Homo sapiens: one gene and its partner. The protein of the gene in region 1 interacts with the protein of each later gene in a pairwise test. Each region holds a gene or a part of one and is shown on either strand. Other genes may lie near its edges.

What was found.
Region 2: the proteins of SLC38A3 (region 1) and HMGN1 interact in a two-hybrid assay, tested with the Homo sapiens proteins (one large-scale study listed by BioGRID and IntAct).

The regions. Positions count from the first base shown.
Region 1 is NC_000003.12:50,203,781-50,208,367, forward strand, and holds the start of SLC38A3 (sodium-coupled neutral amino acid transporter 3), read left to right. Parts: upstream 1-1,490; 5' UTR 1,491-1,568; exon of another isoform or gene 1,569-3,697; intron 3,698-4,587. UniProt on the Homo sapiens protein: Symporter that cotransports specific neutral amino acids and sodium ions, coupled to an H(+) antiporter activity.
Region 2 is NC_000021.9:39,346,114-39,350,476, forward strand, and holds the start of HMGN1 (non-histone chromosomal protein HMG-14), read right to left. Parts: upstream 2,976-4,363; 5' UTR 2,805-2,975; coding exon 2,790-2,804; intron 2,493-2,789; exon of another isoform or gene 2,465-2,492; coding exon 2,432-2,464; intron 2,341-2,431; exon of another isoform or gene 2,339-2,340; coding exon 2,309-2,338; intron 2,227-2,308; coding exon 2,179-2,226; intron 1,830-2,178; exon of another isoform or gene 1,266-1,829; intron 1,180-1,265; exon of another isoform or gene 1-1,179. UniProt on the Homo sapiens protein: Binds to the inner side of the nucleosomal DNA thus altering the interaction between the DNA and the histone octamer. May be involved in the process which maintains transcribable genes in a unique chromatin conformation.

The DNA of each region.
Region 1 (4,587 bases):
CACCAGCCCTTTGCAGATAGCTCCTGTGAGCATCCAGGGTGTCTGCAAGTGGGAGGTTGAGGGGTGGGAGGCAGGCCTGAGACCCTCGTCAGCACCTCTTCTATATGGCTGTCCCATGGCAGAACCATGCCCATTTGGAGGGTGGGAGTCAAAGTGAGCTCTGATCTAAGGATGATATCAGCCCCAGACCAGGAGTGAAAGGCAGCCCTTTCCCATTTTCCAGCCACCAGCAAGGCAGAAGTTCGAGTGGCTTGAGGTTTTCAGGGGTTGCCACCATCCCAATGCCTTTCTCTCTAGCCCTGCCAGCCAGAGCTGAGTCCCCTGCCCGGTCTCACAGCTTCCCCTCCACTCATTCCCCTCAGGAGAAAAGACAGCCATTTCCATGTCACAGAGGGAAACCAAGGTACGCCAGGGCTTGGCTGTGGTGGTTCTGTGAGTCAGCAGGAGAAAATCCTGGAGTCCTGACTCCCAGCCCAGGGCAGGGGAGGGTCGGGTATGTCCTCTCAGGGCATTCCCCCCGCACTGGGAAGTGGGGCAGGCATGACACAGAGAAGACCAGCTTGAATAGGAACAGCAGAGGCCATGAGATTAATCGGATCAGAGCCAGTGACTGAGAAGCAAGGGGCACAGCTGTTCTGAGAACCCCCCCACTTCACCCCGAAGGTCAGCATCTCCCCCAGCTTCCTACTGGTGGAACCTGGGACCTTAACACCCACCACCCGTCTCTGAGCACCAAGGGCCTGTGTGGAAAGCAGGCAGGGGTGGGATAAGGAGCCCCCAGCCAAGAACGGGGCCATCCTAAAACCCCTGTCTGTCCCCAGGACACCAAGTCCCAGCCCCCTTCTTGTGGACAGGCTGACAGCTGTCTCCTACACCTTCTAAATAAGGACGGGGGTCATGGTCGGGGGGCCCCAGGTGAGGCTCAAGCAAGCCAAGCCTTACTCCTTGCCTGACCTCACTGCCCCTGCCCTCTGTGTTCCAGCCTCAGCCTCCTCTGAATATCTGGGGTGGAGACAGAATTGATATAAGAAGCCCTCCCACCCTCGCCCCCACCCCACCCCTGGTTGGGAAGGGGGAGGCAGGTAGAAGAGGTATTTTGTTGCCTGAGTGTCGCCTGAAAGTCCCCCATTCAAGCATCTCTCACTGAGGCTATGCATTGCCAGTCCTCTTGGCGGAAGCTCCCCTTCTGGCTTTGGGGGGTGTGGGCAAAGCATTTCAGGGGTTAATGTGACACCCACAGACCTCAGAGAGAATCTGCTTTGGACTGAAGCATTCCCCCCACAAGACTCAACGGAGTCCCTCTGGCAGCTCTGCTCTCCCACCTAGGGGCTCCCTAACGCTCAGGCCGCCCCTTTGCTCCCGGCCTGCCCCGGCCCCCGCCATTCCCCCGACCAGCCCCTCCTCCCGCGGGCCGCCAGGGATTGGCGGGCGGGGGGCGGGCCGGGGGCGGGGCCGGGCGCCCTTCATCCCGCGTCGCTGTTGTCGCTGTTGCAGCCGAGTTCAGCCGGGAGCAGAGCGAACCGCACCGGCCCGAGCGGAGCGCCGCACGTTCCCAACCGCGAGGCCAGGTACCGCTTCGGGAGTTCATCCCACCCGCACAGGGGAATCGGGTGGGCCGAGCCCTACTGTCCACCCTCCTGTCCGTAGCCGGGCTCTGGGCAGCTCTCCTCTACCGTCCTGACCCGGGCAGGCGCCCCAGCCTCCGGCGAGCCAAAGCCCCGCGCGCTCCAGGCGCTGGTCTTGGGGACCTGCCAGTCGGGACTCAGCGCCGAGCTTAAGCAGGGCCCTGGGGGTACCGGGAGGGACACGTCGTCGCCTTAGGGCCTCTCGGCGGGGCTGCGAGGTACAGCAGGAGGTCGGCGGCACCCGGGGCTGGGACCACAGGACGCCTTGTTGGGGGCTCGGGCGGCACACCACAGGCTTCCTGAGGCAGGGCCCATGGGGCAGGCTGGAGAGGGCCCGAGGGGAGGACCCAAGAGGGGCCTGGAGCAGTCCCTGGAGCGCTGCCCCGACGGGCGCCTGACAGGCAGAGCAGCCCGGCTGGCACGATGGGAATCCGGGTATATTTATCTCGGCTGCTCCGGACAAGGGCTTGAGGGCAGATCGGGCCGGGCCGCCTGAGGGGCCGCGGGGTACATGCTGGTCCCAGAGCCGGTGCCATTTGCAGAGGAGCCAGCGGGCACAGCGGGCGCAGGGCGCGAGTGGCTCCCTGACCTGAGGCCGGGGCGCCGTGCGAGCTCCTCCCCACCTGGCGCTGGGTAGGGTGTAAGTTAGAGCCCGCGCAGCGCACGGCGGAGAGAAGGAACCAAGACTTGGTTTGCAAGAGCCCGCCCCCGCCCGGTTGGCCCCTTCGATTGGCCACAGCAAATGCGTGCGTTTGTTTACACCCAGGCAGGGGGAGGCCAGGGGAGGGACCTGCGGGGACCCGCCCTTTTCCCCCCACGGGGACCTGAGTCCTGAGTCCAGGTATGGGCTCTCAAACAGGTCTGAGAAAGGCTAAGTCAAAGGCTCTTGAGCCCTGAGGAACACCATGGAGGACTTCCCCACTCATGCCCATCCTTCCTTCAGCCTGCCAACCCTGTCCTTTCTTCCATGACCGACTCTGGCCACAGAGCTGCCCCTGGAAAAGGCCCTTGGACCTTTCACCCCTTCCTGTTCTGTTCTGTAAAAGGTCTGGGATGGGGCTCATTTCCTTCTGGAAAGGAAGCACATCCCTCGGGGCTCTCAGTCTGGGGGATAGAAAGCTAAAGAGACCCAAAGATGGTTCCATTTTGAATGGGGGAAATTCGGCACAGCCACGGTACCCTTCCTGCAAGAAGCATCACTGACGGGAGGGATCAGGACTGGAAGAGGCCAAGCCTGGCACGTCTCTGAGAGGGCTGGAATGACTGAAACCAGAAATGGGAATCTGATTTCTTGACATTGGGAGCAGGGGGCTGAATCTCTGGGGAGGGTAGGAGTCTGTATCTCAGAATTTTGTTCTGCCTGGGCCCATGGGACCCATGTCTTCGCTGGCTTCTCAAGCCACTCCTTGTTGTGTGCTGGTTTTTTTGGCCCATGTCACAAATGGTCCCCACACCAGTCCAGGGCTCCAGGTTGCCAGATCATGACAACTGGTTGCTCCTGTCCTTGTGCCACTGCCCTAGCAAGTAGCCTTGAAGCCCTGGACAGTTGGAGAAACTGAGGCACAACAAGACTGGCTGGGTGGTTCATGGTCTCTGGGTTGAGTCAGAGAAGGATTTTAAGCTGAACTGGACACACCCTGGAAGTCTGGGCTGGGTGTGAGGACAAGCATCCAGTTTGAGAGGGAAACATATTTGGAGGGGAGTGGTGTGGGGTGGGCCACCAGGGAGGTGCAGTTTTGGTGTCTCTGTGAACAGAAAGCTGAGGTGGAATGTGCAGTCTATGCTATAGTAGAATTGGGACCCAGTGGGAGGATGTTTTAGTGTAGACATGGCCAGGGGCCAGGCCTCACTTGGAGCAGGTAAGAGGGCTTGCCGAGGGCCTCAAATGCATTCCATTCGTTTATTTTTTTTATTTTTTTCATTTTTTGAGGTGGGGTCTCACTCTGTTGCCCAAGCTGGAGTGCAGTGGCACAATCTCGCCTCACTGCAACCGCCGCCTCCCAGGCCCAAGCAATTCTCCCACCTCAGCCTTCTGAGTAGCCAGGACCGCAAGTGTGCAACATCAAGCCTGGGTAATTTTTTTTGTATTTTTGGTAGAGACAGGGTTTCATCATGTTGTCCAGACTGGTCTCGGACTCCTGACCTCAAGCAGTCTGCCTGCCTTGGCCTCCCAAAGTGCTGGAATTACAAGTCTAAGCCACCGCGCCCGGCCATTCCATTCATTTAACATTTGCTGAGCACCTACTGTGTGCCCGGGGTACACTCTTGTCTAGTGGGTGAAGGGTAGGCCTTTGACTCTGGGTGGTAGGACAGACATAGGAGAACAGGGTGGGGCTCTAGAGGACCAGGCGGGGCTTCTGGGGGCCAAAGGGAAGGACCAGCTGCTGGGCAGGAGGGGCTTTCCGGCCAGTGGCCTGGGGTGGCTTGGTTTTGAATTTCCGCTCTGCGGGCCACGTCCTGTACACAGCCTCTCAGCCAGCACGTCTGCACACGTGCATGGCTGCTGGGAATGGGGGTCACTCCGACTGACCATCATCTCCACATGTATTTTCCATTGCTCAGGTAGACAAGTCCTGGGTGCTGGACCAGGGATATCTGAGCTTTCCAGTTGGGCCTGGCCTTGTGGCCCTAGTGGGCTCAGCCCCAGCCTCTGGGTGTCATAGCACCTGGTTGGTAGGGGCATAACCTGCTCTGTGGGGACCTGGAGGTGCAGCAGCCTTTTTGTGGGGTCCTCCAGGGTTCTGCCTGGCCATCTTGGCAGTGCCCATTGGGCCTACTGCCCCCTCAGCTGGGCCCCCTGGCTCCCTCTCCCCTTCTCGCTCTTTCTGGGGCTCTCTTTTTCTTCAGCTTTCTCTCTTTTTTTTTTTTTTTTTTTGAGATAGGGTCTCGCTGTGTTACCCAGGCTGGAGTGCAGCGGCGTGATCTTGGTTCACTGTAGCCTCTGCCTCCCAGGTTCAAGCAG
Region 2 (4,363 bases), on another chromosome or scaffold:
GCAGCTAAATTAGTTTAGCCCCCAGCGGGTGGTATAAAAGACCCATACGGATACTGACCAATTACTTGAATTAAAGGGCCATAAAGACAAGCAAGTAGAGCTCACAACTTCAATGCTAACACGGGCGGAAAAATCACTGCAGGGTGTTCTGTACTAATAGTAGGATTCCACAGACAGCATAATGACTTTTAATACTTCAACATCCTTTGAGTAACAAATGATAAATGTATTTGAGACAAAACTGCTACTACACACATTGCTATCACAAAGTTTCACAATCACTTCTGTATTTAAGAACTACTCTTTTGTAGTCTGTTTCTAAAGATTTCTCATTAATTTCATAATCATTCCAATACAAAAAATACAAAACTGGGAAACAGTTAAAATAGAATACATAATATCTTGGACTTGAAATAATACCACGTGTAACCATTATCAGCTGAAAAGCTAGATTAAAAAAAAATCAATCAAGTTTCCCAAAGTATAATGTTTGGACCTTCAAAATATTTAGTTCTAGGGAAAGATACAAGTCAGAAGCACACACAGTGACAAGATATGCCTTGAAAACATGTCTACTGTGTAGTATGATAATCGATACACCAAGTGCTTACGTTCTGTTTAGACTTCAAAGTCTGATCAACCATGAAGTCAAAGGTGTATTACAGAAACGAGATGTAAAAATGAACAAATCCCTTCTGCCCTTTTTCCTTTTGGGAAAACTGACCTCATAGGCTCGTTCCTCAACAAACACTGACATGAAGACTTACCTGTTGGCCTCTCAATTACATCTGATGTCCCAAACCCACTGAGAGTAAAACTTGGAACTGTTTTCATTAAAAAATTCACTTTACAGTAGATCTCAAGATGGACAAAGATAAATAAGGAAAGAAACAAGAAAAATGTAAAGAGGGAAACAGGCAGATATTTCAGCCAATTAGTTTAAAACACACACACACACACACACACAATAAAAAAAGATAGGTAATAATATACTGCTCACGCCAACATTTTTAACAAGGTCAGCTAATTTTTTAGGCCTTCAAGTTTCCGTGCTGTTCTAACTGTATACAGAGAATTACCACATGGTCTTCTGGTAATGAGAAATTTAAAGTTGAAAAATACTATTCTCATACCTTCCGTGAAGCTTTATTTTTAAAAGGATCACAAAAACAGAACTTTCTGTTAAAGAAAACATAGTTAACATTTTTACACTCAGCTCTGTAAAAAATTTAAATTAAAAAAGAAAAAACATCTTTGTTTTATACCTTTATTTAACAAGGACAAATTTAGTAATTATCCAACAACTCCTCAATGTCAAGGAAATTAATCTTGCCTCTTCTGATGACTGCAGTGCTAAACTTCTACCTACACTTTTAGGAAAGAGGTGAAGGCATTAACAAAAATTTTTTTTGAGACTTCAAATAGCAAACTCTCACCTAAGTTTTGGATAAAAATTAATCACCCCGCGAAGAACATGTAGAGCTTTACAGGTTTCAATGCTATATCCAAACACAAAGCTTATACTTGTTTTACACATGTTCTGCTTTTCCACCCTGCAAGTTATCAAACACACGTACACCCAAAGCCAACTTCATTCTACAGACCTGCAATTCGAATCATGCAATCACGAATTTGTTAGGGAGCAGCCAAAATCACGGTTTTGTATAACTGCTGATGAACACTTCCAGAGTAGTGGCGGTTATTTTCTCAGAGATCACAACTTTTTACCTCCCCACCCCCACCCCGTAAAAAGGTTAAGGCTTCCCGAAGTTGGCTTGGAAACTGTATATATAAAAACTTACACGTTCCCTTTCTCCTGGCCTCGGTGCTATCTTGACTCTTTTATTGTCAAAAAAGGAAGTACAAGCACGAATTAAAAGCCAAGCACCAGCCACAATGTACGCAACGCAAAGAATAAATTTCCTTTGTAGACTTAATATTTAATATTTTTTGTCGTCCTAAGTCTCCTAACATCTGCAGCAGCATTAGTGTGATATAGTTCTATAAACCAGGATGAATATATCCATTACATTTTTGCCTCGACCACTAGAAAAATTATTTACCGTAATTATTAAAGTATAAATAAAGCTCCAATAGCTAATCAAAATGGAAGCCCCGCATTAAGAAGCAGTGTAGCCTAAGGCCCCGCTGCATCCCAATGCGCGTTTCGAGGCTTACCTTCGCTGCTGCCTTTTTCGGCTTCGCTTCCACTTTTGCAGGAGGTTTCTGAAAGGCAAAAGCAGCACTGAGCGTCCTCACCCGGGACGACCCGCGGAAAACGAACGGTTACGGGGCTCGCTTTACTTACAGCTGACAACCGCGCCGATCTCCTCTTGGGCTTGGAGAAAGAAAAAGGAGAGTCAGCGAGAAGAGAAGGCAGGCCAGCGGCTCACGGGAAACCCACCACCCCCCGCAGAAGGCCCGCACTCACCTCTTCCTTGGCGGCGCCTTCGGCGGAGCTGACCTGCGGAGACGGAGACGCACGAATAGAGGCGGGCCGCAGTCCCAGGACTCGCGGGCCCGCCCGGCCCCGAGAACAATGCCCGGCCGCGTGACGTCACGGCTTCCCGCCGCCCCGTTCGAATAGCCCCCTCAGCTCCCCCGGCCGCCAAACGTTCCAGAACGCCCGCCCCCGCGGCCGCCGAGCGCTCGCCTGCCCGCCCGCCGGTCTCCAAGCGCCTCCCGGGCCCGTCGCCACCGTGGGTGCAACGGGGCCTGGGCCTCGCGGGGCCCGGCGGGGCGCCGGCGGCGGCTCCAGGGGGCGTGTGCGGGCCGCGGCCGCCGCTCACCTTCCTCTTGGGCATCGTGGCGGCGGGGAAGGCGCGTGCCGGGTGCCTGCGGGGAAGGCGCGTGCCGGGTGCCTGCGGGCCGCGGCGCGCCGACAGCCTTCGCGAAACTGGGCTGCCTTGCCGCTGCCACTCCTCCCGCCGCCCGAGCTGCTGAGACCCACAGCGGGGGCGGTGGGAGAACCGGATGGAACCGGATTGGGAGCCCGCCTCCTCCTCCCCCCGCGTCCCCGGCCGCGGGCTCCCCCTCCCCGCCGGCCGGGCCGCCCCCCACCCCCGCCCATTGGCTACGGGACTCAGCCCGCGCCCGGAATAGGTGAGGCGGGCCCTTAATTGATCCCGGACCCCGCCCCCTTCCGGGGGCCCCCCCCCCCCCCCCGGGCGCCCCCACCCCTTTCCGCCGTCTCGCGGGGCCCCAGACCCAGGCGAAGGGGGCGGGGTCCCAGTGGCGCTCCGGCCTCACGGTAGTTTGAAGCCGAGCCGCAAAGTGCGGTCTGCGCGCTGATTGGCGGACGCACGTCACGGGACCGCGGGTCCCCACCCACAATTCTTCTGGATACCTGGGCGCCTTCAGGCCACTGGTATCTGGCCCCTCCCCTCCGGGGTGAATTGGGTTCGAACATTTATAGTTCGTATCTTAGACTGGGAAGGGAGAAGGATAAGGTATACAGGAAGTAGCAAATTTCTCCCGCCTCTGTCGGCAAGAAAGGCTATCCAGGGGCTCCAGCTTCGCAGGCCTGCGTGAAGCGGGCCCTGGTGCGCAGGCGCTGCAGGAGGGCGTGGGAAGGAGAGCCGACGCGGCCTTTCTGTGTAACTTCCTTCCTTCCTTCCTTTTATTTGAGACAGGGTCTCGTTGTGTCGTCCAGGCTGGAGTGCAGTGGTGCGATCACGGCTCATTGCAGCCTCGACCCCTTCGGCTCCAGCGAACCTCCCACTCCGGCCTCCCGAGTAGCTGGGACCACAGGGCACCATTTTGCCCAGCTAACTTTTGTATTTTTTGTAGAGAGGGGGTTTCACTATGTTGCACAGCATGGTCTCCGACTCCTGGGCTCAAGCGATCCTCCCGCCTCGGCCTCCCAAAGTGCTGGGGATCCAAGCTGTGGAACTTTCTTCAGATTTCCCTGGAGGACTGCAGGTGCACGAGGGTCGTTTCTGGGCCCAGAGTAGGGCAGCTCTCAGATTGCAGCTCCTGAGAGCCGTGCGCGACCGTCTCCAGCACTCGCGGACCCCCAGAGGGCTGTTTTTTTTTCTCCATAGCATTGATTGAATATATATCCTTATACATTCCATATATATCTCAGGAAGAATACACAAGGAAGTGGTACCAGCGGTTGCCTCTGGGGAAAAGTGGGAAGATTGAGGGTAAAATTTCCCTTTTCTCGTGTGTAATTTTTTTTCACTTTCCTATCTGCATGGATTACCTTAAAAAAATTCAACATCAGAGAGTACCCAAGTTTGTGGCACAAGCATGTACTGAGCACCTGCCCTGTGGCAGGCACCGTGAAGTCCCTGGGGTAGAGAGAATCCAGGTTTGTATCCCAAGCACTGGGTCTAGTAATTTAGTGGGGAGAGAAAGT